7 linked regions of the Homo sapiens genome follow. The protein of the gene in region 1 purifies or fractionates together with the protein of each later gene. This does not show direct contact. Each region holds a gene or a part of one and is shown in the gene's direction. Other genes may lie near its edges. The genes, in order: RPRD1B, NIF3L1, POLR2B, GPN3, URI1, ANXA5 and RPA1.

Region 1 (4,221 bases):
CTTGCTCTATTGCCCAAGCTGGAGTACAGTAGTGCAATCTCGGCTCACTGCAACCTCCACCTCCTGGGTTCAAGCGATTCTCCTGCCTCAGCCTCCTGAGTAGCTGGGACTACAGGTGCCCACCATCACACCCGGCTAATTTTTGTATCTTTAGTAGAGGTAGGGTTTCACCATGTTGGCCAGGCTGGTCTCAAACTCCTGACCTCAAATGATCCACCCACCTCGTCCTCCCAGAGTGCTGAGATTACAGGCATGAGCCACTGCGTCCGGCCAACTCAGTCTTTCATTCTGAAATATTTGATAATTAAAAGTGAGTTAGAAGTTGCTCATTTTTGCAGTAGAATAAATAAAAGCCCTAGTTTCAACATTAACACTGACTGCTTATCCTTTAGGAATTCTCTTTGGATTATCTTAATTTTTACTATCAATTAATTACCCTGGTTTAAACAACACAGCAATGAAGATGGCCCATTCTTTTTCTTTTTCTTTTTTTTTTTTCCGAAATGGTATTCCCAAACCTATTCCTTAGGTGGTCTTTTTAAACATATCTACTTGACCCCCCAGGTAGATAATACTTGTCTTAATGTTTTTTTAGGAGCAGCCCAGGGCAAAAGAATTGTGAATTGAGAATTTCTTTGGTGTAAGTTAAATTCTTTTCTTTTCTTTTTTTCAGCCAAATCAAATAGAAAGCTTACTTTTCTGTATTTAGCGAATGATGTCATCCAAAACAGTAAAAGGAAAGGACCTGAATTCACTAGAGAATTTGAATCTGTCCTTGTGGATGCTTTTTCTCATGTTGCCAGGTATGTTGTCTGTTTTTTGGATTTGTTTTTAAATTCATTGCCTTTCCCACCTTTTTGTTCTTTCCTTTTCTGTGATAGCCTTTGTAAATTGACAACTTCCTACTTTACAGAGAGTTGTGGAGGCCGAATTGTGGTTTTATGTTTTGTTGAGCCCTCAAGAACTATCGAGACATGTAAACATTCTGATACATTTGAGAGATTCAGCCTAGCATTATCTTTCTTCTAGATATATTCATTTTCATTTTTTGAATTTATTTCTTGGTTATGGTATTTTCCTTGGTTTGGTTGAGTTGTCTCATCAGCTTATGATCAAAAAACAAAGCTAACTAGTAAGGGAACCTTTTAGTAACATAACTTAATAGCAAGAAATTAATTGCCAAATGCCTTCCTTTTTATTTCCTTCTGGATTTCTAGATGTCTAGTTTACTAAAAATAGTAGGCATTACTGTAACTGCAATAATAGTAATTATTAGTGTAGAAAGTAGGTGTTTGCTCTGGCTATATTGTATTAAGCCTGGTGCTGTTGTGTTTTGTGGCAGAGAGGAGTGGCACTCATACAACTAATACCATAGAAAGCATACATTGGATTAAAAGTTTTATAAATTACTTTACTTCATGTAAAAACAAAAGCTTTCTGTGGGCTTAAATTAGGTGCCCAGGAAAAGCAAAGAAAAACTATCGTTCATTAGAATATTATGTTTATAAGTAAATATATAAACAGATATTTGCAAAAGGAATTGGGAAACATGAATGGGAGACTAGTAGGTTAAACATAAATTGTTACTAGGTCTAAAATATAGTGAAAGGCCTTAAATGAGAAATGAAGTCCTGCTTTCATTGCAGGATTTGAAAAGTTTGAAGGAATAAAATTAGAAATCCAAGAGAAAGAAATGACACCTAGCTTTCTAGAGATGAAAAAGATGGTTTTTGTGGATAAGTTACATAACTGGCTCACCTTTTGATCAACATGGGCGCAAGTAGCAAAATGTGTTATTAACTTGAAAAAAATACTGAATCTTCATAACAGAGTAAGCTTAGAACAGACTACTAGAGGAGCTATCTGAAATAGACAGATTTTCTTGCTTTGATGAGATTTAGTTCACAGTTGCTTAGAAATTGATGGTAGCTCTGCCTCAGACACTATGTGAGTGACCTTGGATGTGTTACTTAACTTTTTGAGCCCAAATTTCCTAACTGGCTAAAGGGGGAGGATACCACTCCCCCTCATAAGAGTTGTGAGGGTAAAGACAGACAATATGTTTAAAAGTATGTAGTACAATGCCTGTTCCACATTTGCTCATTCATTGGATCATTTGTTTTTTCCTATATTCCAGGCACCTAGTAAAGTGTCTGGCACAGAGCTGCTGAGTTATGTAGCTTGAAGGAATACCATTTATATAGCCTCCATGTAAGTGGTGTCCCAGGAGCTGGGCAACATTATGGTCTGCCCTGACACAGTAGGCGTTCAGTAAATATTTGTTAAATGAGTTAATTAATGTTAACTCATTATGGAAGAGATTTGGTCTAGGGAGTTGGCTGGAATGATTTCTTGTAGGGATAGTAAACATAACAGTGTTATTAAAAAATTCCAGCCTGGGCAGCATAGTGAGACCCTGTGTCTACAAAAAATTTTTTAAAAATTAGCCAGGCATGGTGGTGTGCACCTGTAGTCCTAGCTACTTGGGAGGCTGAGGCAGGGGGATTGCTTGAGCCCAGGAGTTCAAAGCTGTAGTGAGCTATAATCATACCACTGCACTCCAGGTTTAGCAACAGAGCATGACCCTGTCTCTAAATTACAAACAGACAAACGATCTGTAATCTTTAGCTGTCCTGAAACCAAAAAGTAAATAGAAAGGGGTGGAAAAGGGGGTGGGCAACACCAGGGTTAAAAATTCCTTTTTTCTTGGGAACACCTTAAAAACTAGCCAGGTTTTAGGTGTCTTGGCAGATTCAGTGGCAGTGTGAGGAAGATAAACCTGGTCCTTCTCAATAAAATAGCCCGAATTCCTTTCTGTTTGCATTCTGGTTCTTTTAAGATTCTGCTTGGGTATTACATTCAGGATACCCATGTTTCCAATCTCCTTTCTTATACCCCATTATTGGGACAGAAAGTCCAACAGTTCTGCTTCAACCGTGATGCAGCTCGTCCACAGTAGGAGTAGCCTAATTAACATATACTTTCTGTGTGCTTTTTCTGTGGTCAGTTGATGAACAAAGATAGTTGACCCATTACTGTTGACTAAATTGATGAGGGATATTTTTATGATAAAAGACACCTCCACACCCAAAACAAACAAACAGTAAAAAAAACTCTCAAGTCAGAGAAAGCTGCCAAGTTCATAGGATAGATTTGATTTGAATAGCAGTTTAATTAACCAGACTGCAAACTTGCTTTTCATACAAGTGCCTTGTTTTCTTCCCAGTGAGGAGACAGCTGTCCATGTCATTTTTCATTCAACATGTATTGGAGTGCCTTCTATGTGCCAAGTATGGATCCAGACACGGGGGGAGCAGCAGTGAACAAGGCAGGCAAAGACAATTAAATGAGCAAGATACTTTCAGAGCAGGACAATATGGACATAGTAAAATGGAGTGATGTTCTAGAGTAGGATCTCACAGGTAGTGTGGTTCAGGAAGGCCTCTAAGGAAATGACATTTGCGGTAATCATGCGAAGCGGGAGCAGCTATTAAGAAAAACTTAAGGCAGAGATCATCTTGGCCTTCTAAGAGAAACAGAATGAAGGCTGGTGTGGTTAGAATATAGTGCACAAAGGGAAAAGTGATATCCAGATGAGGTCCGAGAGGTGGACATGCAGCAGTCACATACACCCTGTAAGTCTTGGAAGTTAGGATTTTTTTCTCATGGGATGTCATTGAAGAGTTTTAACCAGGGGAATGATATATTCCAATATATTCCAACATACATTTTTAAAACATCCCTCTTTAAAAATGGCTTAGTGTAGAGGGATGGATTGTAAAGGCCAAGGGAGGGGCGGGGACATGAGTTTGGAGGATATTGCTGTGATGCAGGCTAGAGGTGACATTGCCTAGGACTCAGAAGCAATGGGAAGATACTAATAGCTTCCATTTATTGAGTGCTTCCTTCGTGGGAGGATCCCCACCTCTCCAGTGTAAAACTGATAGGATTTATAGGCGTTGAGTGGGAGCTGGTAGTAAGTGAAAAGAGAAATCAAAGACGATTTCTAGGTTTTTGATGTAAGGAATGACTGATGGTGCCCTTTACTGAAGTGAAGATTGGGGAAAAGATTTGGTGGAGGAAATCACGAGTTTTGTTTTGGCCAGGCCGAGTGTGAGGTGGCTAGTGAATATTCCAAGGAGTGATGCCAAATAGGCAGGTGGATAAAATAGTCTGAAGCTCAGTAGAGACTTGATTTCTGGAGACATAAATTTGAGAGTT
Region 2 (4,221 bases), on another chromosome or scaffold:
AAGGGCTTGGTGAGAAGCCTCTTTCATATTTGATATTTTCCCTGCAAATACTTTGAAACTTTAGGATGTCTTTCCAGTAAAGTTTTAACTGCTTTAGGGTTGGGGAGGGCATGATTCCATTTTTATATAATAATTTTAAAATAATGTTGCTGAAATTTGGCAGTTAAATTGCATTTGAAAAAGGAAACATTTTTTATTCTTATGGAGTAAGGAGAGCAGAAGTCTTCCTTACTGGACTGAGCTTCATGATTCCTCACTTTTGTGGCACAATGCCTGTCACCCAGGCACTTGGAAAATGCTTGTTGAATTGAAAGCTCAGGCCTCTCCAGAATACACTTGATTGATAAGTCAAGTAAATAGACATCAGGGTTTTAATGAATGTTTTTAGTGAATGTTTACTTATGCCTAGCACAATGAGGGAATGATGGATGGATTTTAGCTTTATTTTAGTAAGTCTTTAGTTTACTCATTTTGGGCTAAAGCTTTTATGATGATATCTGGATTAATGTGGTCAAATAAAGTATGAGCATTTGCAACCTGAATGATGGTTTACATGGCTAGATTTACCAAGCAGTAGACCATTCTGTGTATTATCTGAAAATGTATGAATCAGTCTTTCTTGTCCAAGTTTTTCAGAGATTTAAGAATCTTTTGGAAAATAATTCTGAAAATAATTTGATTTTGTATGTCCATGCCAAAGCCCTAGATTATGGGGACTGGTGATGTATATCTAAGGGATGTGTGTATGTTATGTAAGCATGAGAATGAATCTTTTTAAAAAGTCATTTCTTAGAAATTTTGCCTATAATAGTTTACTTTTAAATCTTAATCTCTCACCCCCCAAAACTCCCATTTTCCCACAATATTTTCTCTAGGAGCTTGTACCTCCAGGCCCATACATCCTTCCAAAGCTCCCAACTACCCTACAGAGGGAAACCACCGAGTAGAATTCAACGTTAACTACACCCAAGACCTGGACAAAGTCATGTCTGCAGTGAAAGGAATTGACGGTGTTTCTGTCACTTCTTTTTCTGCTAGGTACAATTTATTTTTCTCTTTTTTTTGTGTGTATTTATTGGTAAGCATCTTCCTTACAAAGTCTATAACCCTGGTATTTAGGCTTGAAACAAATAGTTTTCTCTGGAGTTGATTTACAAAGTAGCATACTCCTCATTTGTTTGTGGGTCCTGGAGAACTATGGAATTTTTTCAAAACAATAAAAACGGTAAGTAACACTAAGTATTTTCTATGTCAGGGGACTATACTATGCATTTTACCTACAGTATTTCTAATCCTGGTAATGTTCAAAGATAGTTGTTTTTACTTTAGAGAATACAGATAGATCCTAGTGATGTGGTGATAAGGCTTTTATTGGTTCCCAGCAAATCAGTGATTCCCAAGTGCTTTTTTATATTTATCTTTACATTTTAAATATATATTTTCATAAATCAGTCTTTTTATTTAACATCATGGGAAATATTTTTCTGAATAGTCTTTTTTTGTTTGTTTTAAGAGACTCCCAGGCTGGGCACGGTGGCTCACACCTGTAATCCCAGCACTTTGGGAGGCCAAGGCTGGTGGATCACCTGAGGTCAGGAGTTTGAGACCAGCCTGACTAACATGGAGAAACCTCGTCTCTACTAAAAATACAAAATTAGCTGGGCGTAGTGGCGCATGCCTGTAATCCCAGCTACTCAGGAGGCTGAGGCAGGAGAATCACTTGAACCCGAGAGGCGGAGGTTGCAGTGAGCCGAGATCGCGCCACTGCACTCCAGCCTGGGAGACAGAGAGAGACTCTGTCTCAAAAAAAAAAAAAAAAAATGCAGATTTTTGTATTCACCTCAGACCTTATAATTAGAATGGAGTTTGCCTGAGAATCTGTCCAGGACATTCTCAAATTCAATGATGTTTTAAAATTATCATCTCTAAGGCTTTAAAAAAATTCATTTTGCCCCAGCCCCATTTGTAGATGTTCTGTTCACTGGTTCTGTGGAAGGATCCAGCAGCTGTTATTTTAAGAAGCTAGAAGGAATTTTTTTTATTTTTTTGAGACAGAGTCTCACTCTGTTGCCCAGGTTGGAGTGCAGTGGTGTGATCTTGGCTCACTGTAACCTCCGCCTCCCAGGTCCAAGTGATTCTCCTGCCTCAGCCTCCCCAGTAGCTGGGACTACAGGCACCCGCCCCCCACCACGCCCGGCTAATTTTTTTTGTATTTTTGGTGGAGATGGGGTTTCATCATGTTGGACAGGCTGGTCTTGAACTCCTGATCTCAGGTAATCCACCTACCTTGGCCTCCCAAAATGCTGGGATTACAGGTGTGAGCCACTGTGCCTGGCCTTCTTTTTTTTTTTTTTTTTAACTTTAATTTTTTAATAATTAAAAAAATAATAAGATAGGGTCCTGCTATGTTGCCCAGGCTGGTGTTGAACTCCTGGGCTCAAGTGACCCGCCCACCTTGGCCTCCCAGAATGCTGAGATTACAGATGTGAGCCACTGCACCTGGCCAAGAAATTTCTGATGCACAATCGGGATTGAGAACAGTTCTTGAACAGTGGTTTCAAAGTGAGGTCCTTGGACCAGCAACATCAGCATCACCTGGAACTTGTTAGAAAGGTAACCTCTCAGACCCCCACCTAGATATAATGAATCAGAAACTCCAGGGGTGGGGCCCAGCACTCTGTGTTTTAATAATCCTCCAGGTGATTCTGATGCCCAGTAGAGTTAGAGAAATGCTATTCTAGAAAATGGATTAGTTTCAGATTAAATGGGTTCTGTTGGTTAAATCCTTGGTTCCACATAAATCTAATCTATTATAGTAGGTTTGTAAACTGTGGATTATCTAAAATACATTTTGGCTATATTTGTCCTAAATGGAGTGATTTTTCCCCCCTAGGACTGGTAATGAGGAACAAACACGGATTAATCTGAATTGTACTCAGAAGGCTTTGATGCAGGTGGTAGATTTTCTTTCCCGGAACAAACAACTTTATCAGAAGACGGAAATTCTGTCACTGGAGAAGGTAATAAGAATATTTTGTATTTGATCTTAAAATACTGTGCACACATTTTCTAACAGTATAATTGAGGTATAATTGATATACTTAGGTATATTGAGGTATACCTTATTGAGGTATAATTGATATACTAAGAATTGTACATATTTGATGTGTACAATTTGATGAATATCATTACTTTGCATTTTTCTTCAGCAAATTCATTTGTAAATTATTAGATCAACAGGCCATTCACTGTTATCTAAAGTACAAAATGGCAATGAGAGCATAATATTCTCTAGGAAGTAATTGAGAAAGGGAGACATTCCAGGAACAGGAAAATATTGGTACGTCTTCAGGGTTACAGATTTGGTTACAGGTTTGCTGTCTCCTTATTTTACACGCTCTGCCTGGACCATGTCATTCACTTCTTTAACTTGATAGCCATTTGTATGATGATTTCTATCTTTACTTTTTGGCTTAGAATGCTTTCTTAAGGGAAAAAATGACAAGAACCCATATTTTCATCTACTTTCTGGATGTTTTGCACTTACAGAGCCCACAAGTATTTCAAATTCAGTATATCCAAATACTTTATCCGTTTGCCACCCCCGCTTTTTTTTTTTTCCATATTTCATATTTCAGTATCATTATCTACTTTAGTTTCCAAGTTTTCACATTCCTCCTTGACTCCAGGCCCTGCTGAGTCTGGCCTCATATCTATACAGTGTTTCTCCTCTGTATTGGCTCTGCCACCACAGTAGTTGAAACTCTCATTTTCTGCGATGAGAGTAGTCTCACCGAGCACCTAGGAGGCAGTCCAGGCTCTTTAGCATGGTGTTGGAAGCCCTTAATGATCTGCTACAGCCTGGGCCTCCAGCCTCCTCTCCTTCCACAGCATGTACTCTGCACAGTAGCCATACTGTCTTCTTTTGGATCTGCCCCCATAGTGTGTTCTCTCAAGTTTTTGGCACCTTTGTCCATGTCCTCTGTGTTTAGAATGCCTTTCTCCATCTCATCGTACCTCTGTCCTGCCACACTGCACTTGACATCACCCCTTTTTAAACTCTTTATTTCCCCCTTTTTAACTCTTTTAGGGTTTTCTCTAAGACCTAAGTCCTTCCTCCAAGTACTCCCCAAGCCTCCTAAGTCACAGCTCATTTAGTTTGTCATTCTTTGTGCTGCTGCAACTGTAGCACCTACCTTGTATTTAAACAGTTTTATTATT
Region 3 (4,221 bases), on another chromosome or scaffold:
CACTTTGGGAGGCTGAGGCCGGTGGATGACTTGAGCTCAGGAGTTTGAGACCAGCCTATGCAACATAGCCAGACCCTGTCTATCTCTTTTTTTTTTAAAGAAAGAAAAAAAGAGAAATCTGGCAAAAAGTCAGCTTTTCATTGTGCCTGAGGTGATGGTGACCTTTGATTCCATTTGTATTTAAACATCTGTATTCCCTGCCATAATATCTTTTGCCACCTATAGCTAGAATGAAGCATTGTCCTGGAGCCATTTAAGAGTAAACTTTTGTAAACACAAAAAATAAAACAAATTGGCTGTAGAAGACTAAACTTTACTGAGACAGTTACATCTTCTGTGATGTTTGGGTGTTAAACACCAAGAGATATTTTATTAGGAAACAATAACCAGGTAGATGTTCTGTGGAGTGTGCCTATATTCTACATTCTCCCGGTAGAAAAAATATTTTATCTTAGGTGAAAAGAAGTTGTTTTCAACATATGTGGTAGATTGCTCAAGGATAAAATACTCTATTGTGAACTGTCATAGCATTTATCATTTGTTACAAAATAAATTATTTGATTTTTAAGTTTAAATTGACTGTAGATACTTTGGCTATTGAGAAATGAATTTTGATTTTTTTTTACTTTTTAATATCAAGTGATCTTGTGAATGTGATATTAGTTAATATCACAAGTAACTTCATAAGATGACTTCAGGTAAAATAAACAGAGTAGAGATCATAAATATGAAATATTTATATAGTTTAGGTGTTTAAGCACCATTCTAATGATTTTGGGTAAAGTAGCTATAGTTCAGCTTCCTGGGGTAATGAAACTTATCTATAGTTTAGAAGCTATTCATCTTAAATTGCCTATAAAAAACCATGGCTATGTATATTACAGGCAATGCCATGTTTTTCTTACAATATCAATGGCTAATCCACATGGTTGTGAGAAATTTCTTTCCCATTATGTGACAGTCTCTACTGAAATAAATTGCCCCAACTGTTATTTAGGTCATACCTTACACATGTGTGATTGTCTGCTGTGTTTTCTACCATAGGACCTAACTTCTAATTTTGGTGGCCATACTTGACTGGATCAGGGTGGGGCCAATTTGTTGGCCTGTCACTGATGTGCGAGGTGACCTGATGAAGCCAAAATGGGAGGCTGATGATTAGTTGGACTCTGCATATTGTCTTAGAAAATTGATGTGAAGATGGGGGAGTCAGTAGTTGGGGAGTAGAAGCTAAGAAGGTCTCACAGATATAAGATGACAGAGGTCACAAGATATAGGAGTGGAGACGTGGAGGTGTGGTGGGGCACTTCCTACTGCTGAAGGGTGATGGGATAATCTTGAGGGTTGTGCTACATCCTCCAGCCTCTGTGATGCCCAGCTTTGCAGCTGTCCCTGGATGGTAATAGGGAGTGATCTGTTGAGATCCTCTTGCACGTGTATCTACTTGTCTCTGTATGTCTTTCCCCACCCCTCACCTGAAAAGTATCTGTTCCTTATAAATATGATGTCTGCTTTTTAGATTGCAGCTCTCTCAGCCATGCTGCATTTTTATCACCAGTCTTTTGCTGAGTATTTTTATGTAAAGACTTATTCTTCTTATCCTACCTTTAAGAATTCAAAATAGAACTAATGATCTATAACCTAAAGTTGGCATTCTCATGCATTATTTTAGTCATTAATATCACTACCCTCCGTCCTATTCAAATGAAAGTTCTTATTGTTATCTTTGACTTTTCTTTAGTTTTCTCTCCTGACATATTTGTCAAGAAGTACTTCAAAGAGGTGGAATAAAATTTGTCCATAAAGGGCATAAAGTTTTTTTTTTTCTTTGAGATAGGGTTTCGCTGTCTCCTAGGCTGGAGTGCAATGATGCAATCATGACTCAATGCAGCCTCAAACTCCTGGGCTCAAGTGATCCCCCTACCTCATCCTCTTGAATATGTGGGACTATAGGCACATGCCACCATGCCTGGCTAATTTTTTTCTTATTTGTTGAAATGAGGTCTCATTGCGTTGCCCAGGCTGAACTCAAGCAATCCTCCTGCCTTGGCCTCCCAGGAGCTGGGATCCTTATAGTTCTTATATTGTGCTTTAAGTATTTTACCCCCAAATATAAGCTGCTTTTCCCCAAATAATAAGTTCTACAAAGAAAATATGCCCGGTTTCATCCTTTTTAAGATACCTCATAGTGTCTTGTTTAGTGGTTGACATATAATGGTTGGTATTTTATGACTGTTTCTTGAATAATGAAAATGGGGAAATAATGAAAATGGGGAATTATGCTAGAAATTATCACTGAGTTGCAACTGACTGAACTCAAATATTTTCCCAGTTCCTATTTTGACGAGAAAGGCTTGGTTAGACAACAGCTGGATTCTTTTGATGAGTTTATTCAGATGTCTGTTCAAAGAATTGTGGAAGACGCTCCTCCTATAGACCTACAGGCTGAAGCTCAGCATGCTAGTGGAGAAGTTGAAGAACCGGTAAGATAGTTCTAATAGTTACACAGGTACAAGAAGCGTATTGGTTTGAAATTTTAGCCCTTCTCTTACCTGGCTTAAAGGTTAAAAAAAGTCAGTTGGAGCTTTTAGCAAAGTACTTACAGCACCGTCAATCACTTTCTGATTTATTTTCTCTAATGAAGAGGTGTGTTTTTTTGCAAGTTATCCCATCCTTATTCACATAGTAGGTATTGAATAGCTGGGAAGAGAGGACTCTGAAATATGAACAAATAAGAGAAGTGAGCCAGAGATGGTCACATTGCTTTAGATAGATAACCCCGCTTTTTTCTCTCACAGTGTAAAAATAATAAAAAATGTTTGAAGGAATTTTCATCTGATTTTATATATTGCATGAAGTACATTATTATAACCATATGAGATAAGAAAGGAAAATCACCCAAACATAGCAGCTATCTTTACTAAGTTTCTTGTAGCTTTTGCTCACATATATGCAGGTTTTTTAGCATTGTTAAAATCATACTAAGGGTATAATTTTATAATTTGGTTTTACATGAGTGATTATAAGAAGGATGTAGTCCAAAATAATGACTGTCCCAGTTTTAGAGAAGTTGAGAGGCAGCTGTTGGAACATATTGGACTTTGAGAGACAGGGAAAACTGAGAAACAAAGTGAGGTAGGGAAAGCCCCCAAAATAGAGCTAGACACAGGGAGAGTTCATTGTTTCTAGCCTGATCAGTTTCTCTTCTGTGTAGCTTATCTCCTAAGTGCTGGTCTGTTATTTCCATTTTAGTTGGACATGCTGTACAGAATTTTGCTGTTAAGAATGAAAGTGATTGGCTCTTCTAGGGCTGTGCTGGAAAGGGGGACATTAAGTTTCTTTTTTATTCTTGGGTCATTTTTTTCTTTTTTACAGGGTCTATAGGTGCCCACCACCATGCTTGGCTAATTTTTTTGTATTTTTAGTAGAGATGGTGTTTCACATGTTGGCCAGGCCGATCTCCAACTCCTGACCTCAAGTGATCCACCTGCTTCAGCCTCCCAGAGTGCTGAGATTATAGGCATGAGCCACTGCACCTGGCTTGTTGGGTCATTTTTTCTTCATGGTCTTTGTATAACAAGCCAGATAACAATATAACATAGCAAATTGAACGTGCCAGTAACAGAAGTACTAAAAGAGGAGTAGATCTCTAACACCTAGTTATCAGAGCTTAGTAGAAAAGATGGAAGAGACTTAAATTTACTATGAAGAACTCTCTTAGAAGAGAAAAGGTGCTTAGTCATTTCAGCAAGGAAATATTTGGTGTGGCCGGTGCGATGGCTCATGCCTATAATTTTAGCACTTTGGGAGGCCGAGGCGGGCAGATCACCTGAGCTCAAGAGTTTGAGACCAGCCTGGCCAATATGGTGAAACCCCGTCTCTACTAGTAAAGTACAAAAATTAGCCGGGTGTGGTGCCAGGCACCTGTAGTCCCAGCTACTAGGGAGGCTGAGACAGGAGAATTGCTTGAACGTGGGAGACGGAGGTTGCAGCGAGCTGAGATCACGCCACTGCACTCCAGCCTGGGCGAGAGGTCGAGACTCTGTCTCAAAAAAAAAAAAAAAAAAAAAAAAAAAAGAAAAGAAAATACTTGGTGTATTTAGGCTGGGGACCACAATGATCAGTATGTGATTTTGGCTTATCTATTTTTTTTTTTTTTTTTGAGACAGAGTCTCGCCCTGTTGGCCAGGCTGGAATGCAGTGGCGCGATCTCGGCTCACT
Region 4 (4,221 bases), on another chromosome or scaffold:
AGCCTGGGCAGCAGAGTGAGACCCTGTCTAAAAAGAAAGAAAGCCAGATTGATTGTCCCAATTTGGATCAGTTATCTGTTATTGATTGCTGAGGGAGGGGGTAGGAAGGTGTTGTCAGTATAAATGTGACTGTGAATGAAGCTCAGTCCTTTGTGAATGGAGAATGTAGGTTTGAGCACAAAAATAAGTAAAAACCTAAGGTAGAAGATTCTATATACTGATTCCCCAAAATTAGTAAGATAACCATACCAGAATTTTTTAAGCCTCTCCTGTTGGTGATTTTTTTTTTCCTGAGACAGTCTCTCTCTGCCACCCAGGCTGGAGTGCAGTGGTACCATGTCATCTCACTACATCCTCTGCCTCCTGGGTTCAAGTGATTCTCCTGCCTCAGCCTCCCGAGCAGCTGGGATTACAGGCACATGCCAGCACACCTGACTAATTTTTCTATTTTTGTTTGTTTTTGTTTGAGATGGAGTCTTTTTTTTTTTCAATTTTATAACTTTATTTGATGTATTTGACGATCAGTGATTAGTTCTCATCGACATTGTCTGTAGATTTTTGAAAGTGGTGACAGGTACATAGGTAACCAAAGTATATGGCTTATTTGGTGAATCTTCATCCTCATTACGTTTTCTGGACAGCTGCACACGGATTCAGTATGGGACATTCCTTATTCCTTTGGCCCAGACAGCTTTGTTGAGCCTGGTATCAATGCGCACATCTGGAGTTCCCATCTCCTTCATGGCAAATTTCTGAATCTCTTTGAGTGCCTGAGGGGCACGCTTCTTGAAGCCCACTCCATAGATGTGCTTGTGAATGTTGATGGTGTATTCTCGGGTTACCACTTCGTTGATGGCAGAATGGCCCTTTTTCTTCTCGCCACCCTTCTTTGCAGGAGCCATTCTGCTGGGTCCAAGTTGGAAAGTGAGATGGAGTCTTGCTCTGTCGCCTGGGCTTGAGAGCAGTGGCGTGATCTTGGCTCACTGCAACCTCTGCCTGCTGGGTTCAAGTGATTCTCCTGCCTCAGCCTCCGGAGTGGCTAGAACTACAGGCGTGCGCCGCCATGCCTGCTAATTTTTGTATTTTTAGTAGAGATGGGGCTTCACCATGTTCGCCAGGCTGGTCTCGAACTCCTGATCTCATGATCCCCCCACCTCGGCCTCCCAAAGTGCTGGGATTACAGGCATGAGCCACCATGCCCAGCCTAATTTCTATATTTTTAGTAGAGACAGGTTTCAGCATGTTGGCCAGGCTAGTCTTGAACTCCTGACCTCAAGTGATCCGCCTGCCTCATCCAAAGTGCTGGGATTACAGGCAGGAGTCACCGCACCCAGCCCCTGATGGTGATTTTGATATATTATCTCATAGTTCTCATCCTTCTAACCCAGGATAAGGAAAGTGAGGCTCAAGGAGGTGAAATAGTTTCCTTAGTGTCATTGTGTTAAGAAATGGTAATCTGTTTTCTTTTTTTGGTTTTGTACTTTTTTGGAATAGGTAATACATATTCACATGGTTCATAATGTAAAAGTACTAAAGAGTAAGTATACAGGAAAACATCTTCCTCTCAGCTCTGCATCCCAGCAATCAGCTCCCCTCCCTGGCAGCAGCCAGTGTTACCAGTTTCTGGTGTGTTCTTTCATAGCCTGTGCACATAAAATTCAAGATGTATATGTATTATGTCTATGTAGTGAATTTTTGTCTTTTATTAACACCAATGATAGCATTCTTACACAGTTCTGCACCTTGCATTTTTCACTGAACAATATACCTAGGAGATTGTATTATTATTAATACTTAAAGAGATTTTCCCCATTTATGGCTGTGTAGTATTCCATTGTCGGGCTGTACAATAATTTATTTGCTCAGTTCTCTATTGATGGACACTGCTACAGGGAAAAGCCATGTACATAAATAATTTCCTGCATATGGGTTTTTTATGTAATTATTAACTTTTATGTTCTATTTCTAGTAAGGATAACAATTTTTGAAGGGACACATATATTCTGGGCCCTATCTGTCCTTTTCAGACATCCGGGAACTGATCGAGGTGGATGATGTAATGGAGGATGATTCTCTGCGATTCGGTCCCAACGGAGGATTGGTATTTTGCATGGAGTACTTTGCCAATAATTTTGACTGGCTGGAGAACTGTCTTGGCCATGTAGAGGACGACTATATCCTTTTTGATTGTCCAGGTGAATCAACAATTTGAATGCATTGTCTTCCTTAAAGTCTTGATAGTTCCATCCTTAGTAGGAGAAAGGAGAGTGAGTATTTGTAGCTCTAAACTATACTGCAGTAAAGTACCAAGCTTATTCAATGGCTGTCACTTACTAAGTATATCTGTTGAGGCCGGGCGCAGTGGCTCACGCCTGTAATCCCATCACTTTGGGAGGCCGAGGCAGGTGGATCACGAGGTCAGGAGATCGAGACCATCCTGGCTAACATGGTGAAACCCTGTCTCTACTAAAAATACAAAAAATTAGCCAGGCATGGTGGCGGGCGCCTGTAGTCCCAGCTGCTCGGGAGGCTGAGGCAAGAGAATGGCATGAACCTGGGAGGTGGAGCTTGCAGTGAGCCAAGATTGTACCACTACACTCCAGCCTGGGCAACAGAATGAGACTCTGTCTCAAAAACAAAAAAAAAAAACAAAAAAAAGTATATCTATTAAGTGCTTGCTTTGTACACTGGGAATACCATAGAGCACAGATGGCCATGGTCTCTGGCCTCATGGAGCTCACATTTGGCAGAACTCGAGACAGTACAAACAAAAAGCATCCAAATGATTATTTAATATTCAGTTGTCATTGAGTATTCCACAGGAGTAGCACAGATCATCACACAGATAATGGCGGTTAGAGAGGCATCTGAGGCGGCCTTTCAGCTGGGCTGGAGGCTGAGGGTGAGGAAGGCAGAGGGCACAGCCTGCTGAACACCTCCCAGGAGGAAGGAACAAAGCTGTTTTAAGGCACTGAAAAGGCCAGTGTGGCTGGAGCATAATAAACAAAGAGGCAATTGTCATGAGGTGTGACTGGTAGGAGACAGATAATAGCACATCATGGCTTCTGAAGCCAAATCGTGAATTTTCTTTTTTTTTTTTCTTTTTTTTGAGACTGAGTTTCATTCCTGTCACCCAGGCTGGAGTATGATGGCGCCATCTCGGCTCACTCCAGTCTCCACTTCCTGGGTTCAAGTGATTCTCCTGTCTCAGTCTCCCAAGTAGCTGGGATTACAGGCACCCACCACCACACCCGGCTATTTTTGTATTTTTAGTAGAGACAGGGTTTCACTGTGTTGGCCAGGCTGGTCTCAAACTCTGGACCTTAGGTGATTCACCTGCCTCGGCCTCCCAAATGCTGGGATTACTGGTGTGAGCCACCACCTCCAGCCCAAATTGTGAATTTTCAACTTGAGCCTAACCTGGCTTTGACCATTTATGGCCCTCACTTTTTTCCCCTTGCTTTTAATTGACCATACATATACCCACAGAAAAGTATATATGTCATAAGTATACAGCTTGATGAATATTCCCAAACTATAGATATCTTTGTAGCACTTATTTATTTATTTTTGTAGAGATAGGATCTCACTATATTGCTCAGGCTGCTCTCAAAGTCCTGGGCTCAAGCTATCCTCCCACCTTAGCCTCCCAAAGTGCTGGGATTACAGGTGTGTGAACCATGGCATCTGGCCAATAACACTCATATTGATTGGCAGAAAACTAAAGTGTGAAGAACCTCATTTTCTTTCTTTCTTTCTTTTTTTTTATTTTTAAAGACAGAGTCTTACTCTGTCGCCCAGGCTGGAGTGCAGTGGCGTGATCTTGGCTCACTGCAGCCTCCTCCTCCCGGGTTTAAGCAATTCTTGTGCCTCAGCATCCCACAGGCGCGCACCACCACGCCTGGCTAATTTTTGTGTATTTTTAGTAGAGATGGGGTTTCACTATGTTGGTCAGGCTGGTCTTGAACTCCTGGCCTCAAGTGATCCACCTGCCACAGCCTCCCAAAGTGCTGGGATTACAGGCATGAGCCACCCTGCCCAACCAGAGAACCTCATTTTCTACATAAAACTTAATAGTTAGGGATTCCTATGGTGGCAGTACCTTAGGTTTTATGATTGCTTTGAGAGGCTGTGGGCCCCTTAAAAATGTGTTGGCTTTTATTTTTGTCCATCTTATGGGGAAAATTTGTTTCCTCTAACTTGATGATTTAACATACTTGC
Region 5 (4,221 bases), on another chromosome or scaffold:
CTTCCCAGTCCAGAGCAGTGGGAATGGAGGATTTTTTTTTTTTTTCACTTTCTCCTCTTCACCAGTGCTTTTGAAACATTTCCAAATGGTCTAGTCAGAAAATCTTGTATCTTCAGAAAGCATTTTTGTTTCCAGTGGGCTAGGTCCCTACGTTTCTACCACAGCCGTAACATGCTTGGCATGCAGTTTACCTTTTCAGAGTAGAAATTATACTGTTGCAGGTTTTTTTTTTTTTTCCTTTTTTTTGGAATTGTTTGTTGAGAAAACTATCACTTGAAAATACCTACTGTTTTTATGACCCTTATTTATAAATCAGTGAAAATTGCTAAATGTATACGTGGGTCTAAAACTTTATGTAGAATTTTGGCAAACCATGCTATTGCCACCTAGGACATGCTTAAAAATAACATGCTGTGTTTTTGTTCTCACTCATAGGTGGGAATTGAACAATGAGAACACTTGGACACAGGGTGGGGAACACCACACACCGGGGTCTGTCATGGGGTGGGGGGAGGGGGGAAGGATAGCATTAGGAGATACACCTAATGTAAATGATGAGTTAATGGGTGCAGCACACCAACATGGCACATGTATACATATGTAACAAACCTGCACGTTGTGCACATGTACCCTAGAACTTAAAGTATAATAAAATAAATAAATAACATGCTGTGTTTTATTATTAGGCCAGAGAAATAGCTTTCAAAATAGTATGAAGATACCATTTGAGGCTATAAAATTATTGTGATTGTGACTATTTTAGATATAAGATTGTAATAAAAATTTTCAGATTAATTTCTAGAATAGATTCAAGGAAATTTTCAAAAAGTTGTTCTCAGTTTTATGAGTTACGTATAGTGAATGCATATGTGTTTTGAATATCACAGAGCCTTTGTTGATGTTGTGAATGGAGAATATGTCCCTCGCAAATCCATCCTGAAGTCTCGAAGTAGAGAGAATAGTGTGTGTAGCGACACTAGTGAAAGCAGTGCTGCTGAATTTGATGATAGGCGGGGAGTTTTGAGGAGTATCAGCTGCGAAGAAGCCACTTGCAGTGACACCAGTGAGAGCATTTTGGAAGAGGAACCACAAGAAAATCAAAAGAAACTTTTGCCCTTATCAGTAACACCTGAGGTGTGTGTGTGTATCTTTTAATTCTTTATTTCATATAGTATCTTTGACCAGTTTTAGCTATTTAATCTGAAAAGTCATAAGATTAAATTAATTCTAGGTTTTATACTTTCTTGGTACTAATTAATAAAAAATTAATAGTCACAAACAGTACAAATATTGTGATAATCAAATAGTTTATTTTTTGATAAACACATTACTTGTCTTAACGTTCTATTTCAGCAAAATGGGAAATTTAAAATGTCTTACTTGGCATTATGTATTACATTTGTAGCTAGGAAATTATTTCGCAGTTTATTTTAAATAAATTACCAGTAGGTCATTTTCTGATAGTGTAAGGAGCAGATTACATTATTCTCTTTTAAATACCTTGGCTAAGTTAAAGAAAAATAATGCATGCATAGCAGATAATTACCTAAAGTCTAATATTTTACCTTGTACCAGTGAAACTTAACTCTTGGGGGATTATGGAATTGTTTTATAATCTGATGAAAGCTGTAGACCCTGTCCATAGAAAAAATAGTGCACACTCAATACACTTTCACCCACCACACTTCTTACAGTTTTTGGTGGTGGTGCAGGGGAGGTTAGGAAATCCCCAAATAAGGATGTCTGTGAAATATAAGGCTATTGATTTCTTCATTCTTGTGTTTTGGTGCGTATTTGAAGTTTTCAATTTAAAAAGTATTTAGGAAGATTGGGGAACCCATGCCTGGATCAAACCAGTGTACACATTTGTATATACAATAAGATACATGCATATATATAACCTTATCTAAAAATTCCATTGCTTTTACTAAATGGTATTATACTCAGTGTATTAAATGGTAATTGGGGATGGAGATTGGTAGCATTTAGGGACAGTACATATGACTAGAATGTTTTCTTCCCCTCTTCTTAGTATAATGATCTTAGGTGACCTGGAAAGTATCTTACCTTATTTGATAGTCTTCCATACTGTTAGAAAACAGGTAATGGATGTTATCAGGTAATTGCTGATAAATGTTTGAAAATTAGTTTTTTGTAAGGACTTAGTGTATCATGGTACAGCTAGAGTGTGGAACCTATTTTTTATTTCACCCTTAGTAGCTTTGCATTTTGTATGGAAATGTTTAATAGTAGTTGCTATACATTTTTTAACATCAAAGAAATAGTTCATGATTATGGTAAGTACTTTGGAAGATATCCTTTTCAGTATCTTTTTAAATGCTAAAATACCTCTTTTTCAAAGGCATTTTAAATAGAAGAAGGAGAAGAAGGCTCTATGCTCATCGTGATAAAGTGGAGTTTTTAGGAAAGTAAGCTTTAAGCTGCTTTTACCAGTTGAACTCCAAAAATAATGTAGGAGAGAGATGGCTTTCTTTGTTTTTGTTTCAGTGGTGGGGCAAGGTAGAAGAAGGTGGCTTTTTAAATTATTTAGGTGTTACGTTGTTTTAACTAATTTTGAGCACTTGGTAGACAGAGGAGAACAAAATGTACATTAAAGTTCACCTGTCAAATTTTCATTTGTAGAGGGAAGGATGGAGGTTCTAAATACCAGCAATCTTAAAAAAAAAAAAAAAATTAACTCCTTGTGTCTTACCTATTTTTGTATAAAACGACATGTACAGATATTTCCAGCAATTTATGCACATTCTTTAATTCTGTTCCAGTTGAACATATAGTTGACCAGATTAAATGCAGCAAACATCCAGGTGAAATTGAGTCATTTCTTTTTTTGTGGAACTTCTGATTTCTGTCATTGAGTTAATTATATTAAAATTTTGAAACCTGTACTTATTCCTACTAGTATCAGCACTTTTATTTTTCAACTTCCACTGATCTTTTAAAATTGAGGCAATATGCAGTAAAATATTTAAATAATTGCATAAACACCACCAAAGAGATATCAGTTAGAAATGTCAGTACTGGTGAAACTAAGCTATTGGCTAGCAGGCAGCAAGGCCATCATAGGATAGCTCATTCATCAACTGATGTACAAAAGTCAGAGTTTGACACCCTAATAGCATTTTTATTTTAATACATTATTTTTCACAGCATGGGCTGGACATGAATGGAATGTATGAAAGTTTGAAGACCTTTTATTTATCCATTTCTTTTTTTTCCCAGATAAAATTTACATTTTACATTTTGTTTTCTTGCATGTATACTGTAAAAATTACTTCTGTTTGGTGGTGAAATTAAAACTTAATGGTGTTGGTTTCTCTGAACAATTAGTATTTTGGTGTAGTAGTGTTGTCTAGCCAAAAATCTCGTGAATTTACTTTTAATGAAAAGAATTGCCAAATGAGTGAATGGGAAGATTTTGTGGGTGTCTTATTTGCATTTTATTACCATAACCTGACTTTTGTTTTCTAGGCTTTTTCTGGAACTGTTATAGAAAAAGAATTTGTATCACCTTCCTTAACACCACCCCCAGCCATTGCTCATCCCGCACTACCCACTATTCCAGAACGAAAGGAAGTTCTGTTGGAAGCATCTGAAGAAACTGGAAAGAGGGTTTCAAAGTTTAAAGCTGCCAGATTGCAACAGAAAGACTAGGCCCTGTCTAGGAAATGGGAATTTACATCCTAAAACCTAGTTGTTCATTTGTTTAGAGTATCTATAGCAAAATAGGTTACATGTAGTTTGAAATAAGGTATCCTGAGTTACTTTGGCAACAAGTTCTTTTACCCTTACCCGTGGTATTTGAAAAAAATCAAGGTAACTGTCTGAATACTTTAATATCAGCTTGTTTTGTGAATTCTCTGAATACTGTCAACACTCTTATCTAAGTTTGCCTTTATGATGCAGTGGCAGCATTTTGAATTACTTTTCAAAGAATACTGTTCATATGCATTGTTTTTGTGTTTCAAACTAAATACAGGCAGTTTTGTGCCAGCTGTGATATTGTGCATACCATATGGACCATTTTAAAGAAAATTTTAAAATTTCAAATAGATTCAACAATTACATTACTTGCTTTCACATTTTAAAGGCACTTTAAAAAAATCTACTTCTCTTGTAGGTTTTGCGGCTAGTTGGCTATTCAAGAAACCTCGCCCCTCTGAATGTCATACTGTAATCTTTAAGGAAGAAAGCTACATGAAT
Region 6 (4,221 bases), on another chromosome or scaffold:
AAACAAACCCATGGCTTCCACTGAATAGCAGTGGAGTTGGAATTCCTAACGAGGCCTGTCTGACTCCAAAGCTCTTTCTCTTTCACTAGAAGATAGTCAGTGTTATTGAATATTAATATTTCACTATAAGAATATTTCACTGTAAGATATTCAGTGTTCTTGAGTATTAGTGCCTTCCCTGATTTTCTCTATCATTAAAGGGCTTATTAAATATCAACTCAAGCATAGATCTAGCTTAATTCCACCTTCTTTCGGGAAGAGGGCTAGAGCAACCCTACAGAGTTGTACTCCTGTTAGGGGCTTTGTTCAGTACTGAGGTGATCTTACTGCTTTCCAAGCATTGGTTGTGGCTTTGCTAGGAGATAGTGCTGATTCTCTCATTCCTACTGTCAAGAGTAGGATAGGAGTTCTGGGAGCTTTTCAGGGTCACAGTGTAAGAAACCAACTCTAGTCCTCTCAGATGTCTGCAGTGAGGCCTGCATTCACAGGCAGAGGGCAGATTTCCCAGCATAGTTGGTGATGTAATGAGAGCATTGCTGCAGCACGAGGCTCCTGAGGGGAAAACAGTACATTTTAACCTTGTTTTCATTGATTTCTGTCCTTGGAGCACTTACTGGATAGCACTGCTGCTCAAACTTTCATGGGCATGTGGCGCACCTGGGACCTTTAATTGCAGATTCTGATTCTATGGGTCTGGGCAGGGGCTGGGAGTCTGGATTTTGAACATGCTCTCAGGTAATGCCTGCATTCTTGGTCCTTTGATTACTGAGGCTGTATAGGTGACACTTACGTGTCATGCAGTGGATATAACCATTCAGAACCCTGAGAGTACATGTGAGACTGTACATGTGAAAACTGCTTTATGGAGTTACTTTAAAGTATCCCTTGAATGGAATCCAAGCTTTTCTTAGCCTTCCAGTGACTAGGAGCAATACAGAACATGTTACACTGGCTATTATTTTTGATTCTTTCAAATGTATTATTATTAATTAATAAACCTGTTGAAAACAAATAATCTTTTGGCATTATAAAAAGGAACACACCAACTTGTACCTCGTAGCAAGGGCAGCTGGACTGTTATCACTAGTGAGAATTTGAGATTTCTTAATTGAGAGTAAGCTGAGACAGCTAAAGGGCTCTTTTATAAGCTTTTGCATTTTTGTCTCTACTGATACCTGGCACTAAGAAGATTTCTATTATTTGAGAGGTTTGATAAGCCATAGTGAGTCATTCACTTGGGAACTGAACGTTTTGTAGATAATCCACTTTTTAACATTTTTAATGTGTTAAATTGATTTAATACTTTTAATGCATTAAAACAGATTTACCTTCTTCCCCAGTAAATCCTTGTTTTATTCTTTCTCTGGAGGGAGAGTTGAACTCTTAGAGGAAAGAGGGAGAAGGAGAAGTAATCAGGCACTTTTTACTTTTACTGGGCATTTGCTACTGATTACCTGACACTGTTCAGTGCATTATCTTAGTTATATAATCTCCGTTAATGACTATATACACTGAGGCTGAAGAGGAGATTAAGTAGTTCATCTGAGATCTTGCAGATAGACCACATCTGTTTTGACTCCAAAGACTCATCCTTTGCACTGAACCAGGGCTTATGAAACTGTACTCAGGCTGAACCGTAAAGCTTAGGGAAGGGGTGTAAGGGTCCCTCATCCAGATGGATCCATGAATATTGGGCATCCTCATTTAGGAGAAAGGATACTTAGATTAAAACAAAACTGTTAAATATCATTGTTTTACATGAAGAAGCCATCATTATTATTGCATATGATTACTTAATAATAGTTTTACAGTAGATATTGATCCCAAACATAATTCTCCCAAGAAAATTAAAACATTGTGGTAAAAATAACTGACATCTCACCAATTATTCCCATATAACAGGCTTAACTCCTGTACCTACTAGAGAACATTTCTAGACATTTAAAACAGTTGATAAGAAGTGTGTGCATCAATGTCTGTGATATTGTACAAGATGAGTCCTTTACCCATTTAGGTGTTAATGTATTTGTATATTTTATCTACATGTAGAAACATACCAGAAGTAGTAACTAGCACCCTCAGGAAATTGATATTAAATAGCAACTTTTCTTTTCTTTCCTTTCTCTTTCCCCTTTCTCCTTTTTCCTTTTCTTTCCTTCACCTTTCCTTCCCCTCCCATTTCCTTACCCTCCCCTTTCCTTCCCCTCCCTTCTCCTTCCTATCCCCTCTCCCTCCCCTCCCCTCTCCCTCCCCTCCCTTCTCCTTTCCGCCCCTCTCCCTCCCCTCCCCTCCCCTCCCTCTTCCCCTTTCCTTTCCTTCGTGCCCAGGCTGGAGTGCAGTGCCATGATCTAGGCTCACTGCAACCTCTGCCTCCTGGGTTCAAACAATTCTCTTGCCACAGCCTCCCGGGTAGCTGGGATTACAGGCATCTGCCACCGTGCCTGGATAAGTTTTGTATTTTTAGTAGAGACAGGTTTTGACAGGTTGCCCAGGCTGGTCTTGAACTCCTGGGCTCAAGCGATCCACCTGCCTCAGCGTCCCAAAATGCTGGGATTACAGGCATGAGCCACTATGCCTAGCCTGCAACTTCTATTTTCTTATTTTTGTTCTTTCTTAGTTTTATAAAATTTCTCAATGAACTTGCGTTGTTTTTGTAATTAAATTTTAAAAGTTATTTTAAGAAAGGTCTGTGTCATCATGATATAGTTCTAAAGTTTAGATGCATGCATGACTTTCAGAGTTACTGTCTTTTCAGGTTTTAAGAGCATGTTCACATGGCCAGAATTGATATTATTCATTTTTATCTTTAAAATAATTAATTTTAAAATTGAGCATAAAGATACATGAGTCTCATTTTTTTCTTATTCTCCAGAAATATAATAAAAAATAGATCTTTACCACCATAATCTACATTTTTAAATATACTGTGATCAAAACTTCTATATTCAAGCCTGTTATTATCACTTCCTGTCTTTATTTGGATTGCTGCTTGTGGGTATAAGGCCAACTGCAAGTAGCAGCCTCAGCAAATTGCATTCATCTTGCTTTAATATGTAGACTTAGTTTGAAATGAATAAAAGGATAGTACAGTCATTGTAAAGGTTGATTCTTTGGGTTTTAATAAATTATTCTCACGTCAATAAGTGGATTCAGAGTTAACGTTGATGTTTGTATATAAGCTTATTTTTTTAGGCAGCTATACGTGCACAAGAAAGCATATTTTTTCCCCATGTCAAAAAGGAAGTATGGGCACTCAAACTATTCAACCACTACTTATTGAGTGCTTCTATATGCCAGGCACTGTGCTATACCCACAATCTTTTAAAAATTTATTGTGATCTTTGGAAATATGAAAACATTTTATAGCTAGCCTTGGTTAAATCTCAGTTGTAAAGAGAAAATATGAAGTGTACTTTTACTCATGTGCTATTGAACAGCTATAGAACAAGCAAAACAGAAAAGGCAGACAACTTAGCTTCCAGTTAAATCCTTTCCCAGTCTATACATGGATGTATCAACAGTGAGGTAGTCATAACTTTCTCCTGACCCATACTGTTGCTTCTGAAAGATTGGAGGTTATGGCAGACATTTTGGGAACATGTAACCTTGCACCATTGCCGTGCTTTGTTGCTTGGACCCATGAATCTTCTGTGGCACAGTTCAGTGGCAAGCTCCAAAGGTGCTCCAAACTCAGTGAGCTGAGTTTCAGAGTAGGACACATTAGAAATGAAAACTATTAATACAAGATGATGAATCAAGTGAGTTAAAATTCAGGGAGTAAAAAACAAGTGTGTTTAAGAACCTGGAAATGAGATGGAGGAACAATTTATTAATTGAGTTTGAAATTTTTGCAGGCTTTATTTCAGGCTGGAGAACTTAAATGGGGGACAGATGAAGAAAAGTTTATCACCATCTTTGGAACACGAAGTGTGTCTCATTTGAGAAAGGGTGAGTGAAAAAAATCTGTATGGGGCAGATACATTGGTAAATTTGGAAAGTGCATGAGCCAGTGTGACAGAATACCTGCTACATAGCAGGGACTTAGAGAATGAATCAGTTTTTGTATTTCTTCCTTTTGGTGACCTGGAGAAATCTCAACATTGTTTTTGCTGCTGTTGTAGCTTTTACAAACTAGAGATCCTGAGTCCACCCTTCACTATTGGAGGATGGCAAGGGAGGTCAGTTCTCTAGATTGTTCCTCTCATAGTCACACATCACTGA
Region 7 (4,221 bases), on another chromosome or scaffold:
CCCAGGTAGCTGAGAATACAGGAGACTGCCATGATGCCCGGCTAATTTTTGTATTTTTAGTAGAGATGGGGTTTCACCATGTTGGCCAGGCTGGTCTCGAACTCCTGACCTCAAGCAATCCACCTGCTTCGGCCTCCCAGAGTGCTGGGATTACAGGCGTGAGCCACCGCGCACGACCCCATTCACTTATTAGATGCATGACTTGAGGCAAGATACTAAACTGTTTCTTTTCTGTAAAATGAGAGCAATGATATCTATTGCATAAGGTAAGTAGGAGGATGGAGTGAGTTATTAAATTTAAAGTGCTTAGCACACTGATACATAGTAAATGCTCAGTGTTTATGTTACCTATTAATAATTGCAGTTTTATGTTTGTTGATTTATCAGTTTCTTTTTAAAATTTTAAAATTATTGTGTTTGTTTGTTTGTTTGTTTTGAGACAGAGTCTTGCTCTGTTGCCCATGCTGGAGTGCAGTGGCACATTCTCGGCTCACTGCAACCTCTGCCTCCCGGGTTCAAGCGATTCTCCTGTCTTAGCCTCCCTAGAAGCTGGGATTACAGGTGCCCACCACCACACCCTGCTAATTTTTGTATTTTTAGTAGAGACAGGGTTTCGCCATGTAGGCCAGGCTGGTCTTGAACTCCTGGCCTCGAGATCCACCCACCTTGGCCTCCCAGTATGCTGGGATCACAGGCTTGAGCCACTGTGCCTGGCCTAATACTTTGTGTAAATTCCATGAGGCCTGCAATCATGTCTGGGTTATTTTACTCTGCATTGTATCCCCAATACCTGGAGAAGTGCTGGCAAGTTTTAGGTGCTGAATAAATGCTTGCTAGTTGCATGAATGAATGAGGCAGTGGGAAGAAAGGGACAGGTGAATGGGGAAGAAAGGCAGCTTGGGGGAAAAACAGGAACAGGAAGAACTATTGTTGGACTCAAGTGAATATTTAAATAAATTAGGAATGTGTGAATGCTGAAACCGGGGAAGTGATTTTAAATTGTAGCTTTCATTTACTTTATAGCTGCTACCTTGTGTCTTTAAGACAAATTAAGAATGTTTCTAGGCCAGGCGCAGTGGCTCACGCCTGTAATCCCAGCATTTTGGGAAGCCAAGGCAGGCAGATCACCTGAGATTGGGAGTTTGAGACCAGCTTGGCCAACATGGAGAAACTCTGTCTCTATTAGAAATACAAAATTAGCCAGGTGTGGGGGCGCATGCCTGGAATCCCAGCTACTTGGGAGGCTGAGGCAGGAGAATCTCTTGAACCCGGGAGATAGAGGTTCCGGTAAGCCAAGATCGCACCATTGCACTCCAGCAACAAGAGCAAAACTCCATCTCAAAAGAAAAAAAGAAAAGAATGGTTCTTCACTTTTAAAAAGACTGATCATGGGCCAGGCGCAGTGGCTCATGCCTGTAATCTAAGCACTTTAGGAGGCCAAGGCAGGTGGATCACTTGAGGTCAGGAGTTCGAGATCAGCCTGGCCAACATGGGGAAACCCTGGTCTACTAAAAATACAAAATTAGCTGGGTGTGTTGGCGTGTGCCTGTAATCCCTGCTGCTTGAGAGCCTGAGGCAGGATAATTGCTTGAACCCGTGAGGCAGAGGTTGCAGTGAGCCGAGATTGCACCAGTGCATTCCAGACTGGGCGACAGAGTGAGACTGTCTCAAAAAAAAATAAAGAATGATCATGGAGATATTTAAATAATTTGATAAGTTTTTTTATTTTTTAGAGATGGGGTCTCACTCTGTTGCCCATGCTAGTCTCAAACTCCTGGGCTTAAGCGATCCTCTCGCCTCAGCTTCCCAAAGTGCTGTGATTATAGATGTGAGCCACTGCACCTGGCCATGTTTTTATATTCAAAATTTTATAAACCTATTTCCAGCGTAGGTGAAGTATTTTGTTCATAAATGAAGAATGAAAGTTTCACATGTGTTTGTGGTGATGGAATGAGTTGGAGAACCTTTGCTGACTTTCATTATCAGCTAAAGCAGGTATCATTTTCGTTCAAAAGACACAGGCCACAAAGGGTACGCAAATACCACACACATGTGAAGGCGTTTGGGCAAGAGTCACATGATAAAATAAGAGATGATGCATAGAACTCTTGTGGTCAACAGAATACATAGCATTTGTATCTTAATTATATAACGAAAGGGGAAGGGAACTAATGTTTTTGACTATTTCTAATGTGACAGATGCTTTAGTAGTCAGTACTTAAGTAACCCTAGAAGATAGCTATTATACTCCCATTTTACAGAGGAAGGAAGTACAGAGAGGTTGAATAATGTGTCCATGGGGTGAAGATTTGAACACATGTGCCCTTGAGTATTACATTTGTTGCTTTATATACTTACTAGGGATTTTTTTTTTAAAGGGTCTCACTCTGTTGCCCAGGCTGGGGTGCAGAAGCACAATCTCAGCTCACTGCAACCTTCACCTCCCAGGTTCAAGTGATTCTTTTGCCTCTGTCTCTCGATTACAGACGTGCGCCACCACGCCCAGCTAATTTTTGTATTTTTAGTAGAGATGAGGTTTCGTCATGTTGTCCAGGCTGGTCTTGAACCCCTGGCCTCAAGTGATCTGCCGCCTCGGCTTCCCCAAGTCCTGGGATTACAGACTTGAGCCATTGCACCTGGCCGTAATTTTTTTTAAATGACAGAGTCTTGTTCTTTGTCTCTCAGGCTGGAGTGCAGTGGCATGATCATAGCTCACTGCAACCTCCAACTCCTGGGCTCAAGTGATCCTTCCACCTCAACCTCTCCAGTAGCTGGGAGTACAGGTGCATGCCACCATGCCCAGCTAATTTTTTTTTTTTTTAATTTTGTGTAGAGATGGGGTTTCGCCATCTTGCCTAAGCTGGTCTCTAACTCTTGGTCTCCAAACAGTTCTCCTGCCTTGCCTCCCAAGTCTTTGGGATTATAGGCATGAGCCACTGTGCCTGGCCTTGTCCCTTAAAATGAGTTACATTTGTAAACAGCTGATTTCTTTGGAGCATCGTCCCCATATACTTTTCTTTCATAAGTGATCTCATCCTTCTTCCACCCAACCTTCCCCTTGAATTTGTTGTTTGTTGTTGTTTCCATTTTAGCAGAATTCATGTTGCTCTGATAGGGGCTCTTTTCAAACTGATGTCTTATCCTTCTTAGTACCTCAAACTAGGTCTTGTTCAGACATGTTATAACAAGTTAGTATGAGTTTATTTTAGTGCAAAAAAAATTTTTGAAATGCATGCATAGTTTTTTCATAATGCACATTTTTCGTGTACTTTTTGAATCCCCCTCATACATGCACGTGGTTTTAAAATCAAACGGAACAGAAAGGTGTTCATGGCCGGGCATGGTGGCTCACATGTGTACTCTCAGCACTTGGGGAGGCTAATGCAGGAGGATCCCTTGAGGCCAAGAAAGAGTTTGATACCAGGCTGGGCAACATAGCAAGATCCTGTCTCTATTTCATTTAGAAAGAAGAAAGAAAGAGGTGTTTAATGTAATTACTGACCTCCTGCCTTACCTTGTCCAGTACTGTTCCCCAGAATAACTGCTTTTTAGAAAAATCACTGTCATTGACATTTTGCTTACGTATAGTAAATTGCACCTTTTTTATTTATTTATTTATTTATTTGAGGCAGAGTTTCCTCCTGTCACCCTGGAGTGCAGTGGCGTGATCTCAGCTCACTGCAACCTCTGCCTCCCAGGTTCAAGCAGTTCTCATGCCTCAGTCTCCTTAGTAATTGGGGTTACAGGTGCACGCCACCACCTGGCTAATTTTTGTATTTTTAATAGTGATGGGGTTTCACTATGTTGGCCAGGCTGGTCTCGAACTCCTGACCTCAGATGCTCCTCCTGCCTTGGCCTTCCAAAGTGCTGGGATTACAGGCATAAGCCACCATGCCCGGCCAAATTGCACGTATTTTAAATGTACAGCTTGATGAACTTTGACAAATGTGCGCACCCCTGTAACCACATTGCCCCTGTGGAGATATAGAATACTTCCATCAACGCACAACTCCTCTTGCTCCTTCCCCACCTCCATCCTCACCCTAGGCAACCAGTGTTCTGGTTTCTACCTTTGTAGGTTAGTTTTGCCTTTCCTAAGACTTCATATAAATGGAATCAAATAATATCTATCCTTTTGTGTCTGGCTTCTTTCAGCAGTTTTTTTTTTTTCCCCAGAGGTAGGGTCTCTGTCACCCAGGCTGGAGTGCAGCGACACAGTCA

What was found.
Region 2: the proteins of RPRD1B (region 1) and NIF3L1 fractionate together in Homo sapiens (co-fractionation; one large-scale study listed by BioGRID). This does not show direct contact.
Region 3: the proteins of RPRD1B (region 1) and POLR2B purify together in Homo sapiens (affinity purification with mass spectrometry; 6 studies listed by BioGRID and IntAct, with this or other methods). This does not show direct contact.
Region 4: the proteins of RPRD1B (region 1) and GPN3 purify together in Homo sapiens (affinity purification with mass spectrometry; 3 studies listed by BioGRID and IntAct, with this or other methods). This does not show direct contact.
Region 5: the proteins of RPRD1B (region 1) and URI1 purify together in Homo sapiens (affinity purification with mass spectrometry; 3 studies listed by BioGRID and IntAct, with this or other methods). This does not show direct contact.
Region 6: the proteins of RPRD1B (region 1) and ANXA5 purify together in Homo sapiens (affinity purification with mass spectrometry; one large-scale study listed by BioGRID and IntAct). This does not show direct contact.
Region 7: the proteins of RPRD1B (region 1) and RPA1 purify together in Homo sapiens (affinity purification with mass spectrometry; 2 studies listed by BioGRID, with this or other methods). This does not show direct contact.

What each region holds. Positions count from the first base shown.
Region 1 is NC_000020.11:38,039,762-38,043,982, forward strand, and holds part of RPRD1B (regulation of nuclear pre-mRNA domain-containing protein 1B), read left to right. Parts: intron 1-673; coding exon 674-803; intron 804-4,221. UniProt on the Homo sapiens protein: Interacts with phosphorylated C-terminal heptapeptide repeat domain (CTD) of the largest RNA polymerase II subunit POLR2A, and participates in dephosphorylation of the CTD by RPAP2. Transcriptional regulator which enhances expression of CCND1.
Region 2 is NC_000002.12:200,892,371-200,896,591, forward strand, and holds part of NIF3L1 (NIF3-like protein 1), read left to right. Parts: coding exon 1-9; intron 10-875; coding exon 876-1,038; intron 1,039-2,893; coding exon 2,894-3,020; intron 3,021-4,221. UniProt on the Homo sapiens protein: May function as a transcriptional corepressor through its interaction with COPS2, negatively regulating the expression of genes involved in neuronal differentiation.
Region 3 is NC_000004.12:56,988,416-56,992,636, forward strand, and holds part of POLR2B (DNA-directed RNA polymerase II subunit RPB2), read left to right. Parts: intron 1-2,332; coding exon 2,333-2,483; intron 2,484-4,221. UniProt on the Homo sapiens protein: Catalytic core component of RNA polymerase II (Pol II), a DNA-dependent RNA polymerase which synthesizes mRNA precursors and many functional non-coding RNAs using the four ribonucleoside triphosphates as substrates.
Region 4 is NC_000012.12:110,457,669-110,461,889, reverse strand, and holds part of GPN3 (GPN-loop GTPase 3), read left to right. Parts: intron 1-2,027; coding exon 2,028-2,195; intron 2,196-4,221. UniProt on the Homo sapiens protein: Small GTPase required for proper localization of RNA polymerase II (RNAPII). May act at an RNAP assembly step prior to nuclear import.
Region 5 is NC_000019.10:30,011,398-30,015,618, forward strand, and holds part of URI1 (unconventional prefoldin RPB5 interactor 1), read left to right. Parts: intron 1-887; coding exon 888-1,134; intron 1,135-3,489; coding exon 3,490-3,672; 3' UTR 3,673-4,138; coding exon of another isoform or gene 4,139-4,195; 3' UTR 4,196-4,221. UniProt on the Homo sapiens protein: Involved in gene transcription regulation. Acts as a transcriptional repressor in concert with the corepressor UXT to regulate androgen receptor (AR) transcription.
Region 6 is NC_000004.12:121,672,260-121,676,480, reverse strand, and holds part of ANXA5 (annexin A5), read left to right. Parts: intron 1-3,854; coding exon 3,855-3,948; intron 3,949-4,221. UniProt on the Homo sapiens protein: This protein is an anticoagulant protein that acts as an indirect inhibitor of the thromboplastin-specific complex, which is involved in the blood coagulation cascade.
Region 7 is NC_000017.11:1,832,509-1,836,729, forward strand, and holds part of RPA1 (replication protein A 70 kDa DNA-binding subunit), read left to right. Parts: intron 1-4,221. UniProt on the Homo sapiens protein: As part of the heterotrimeric replication protein A complex (RPA/RP-A), binds and stabilizes single-stranded DNA intermediates that form during DNA replication or upon DNA stress.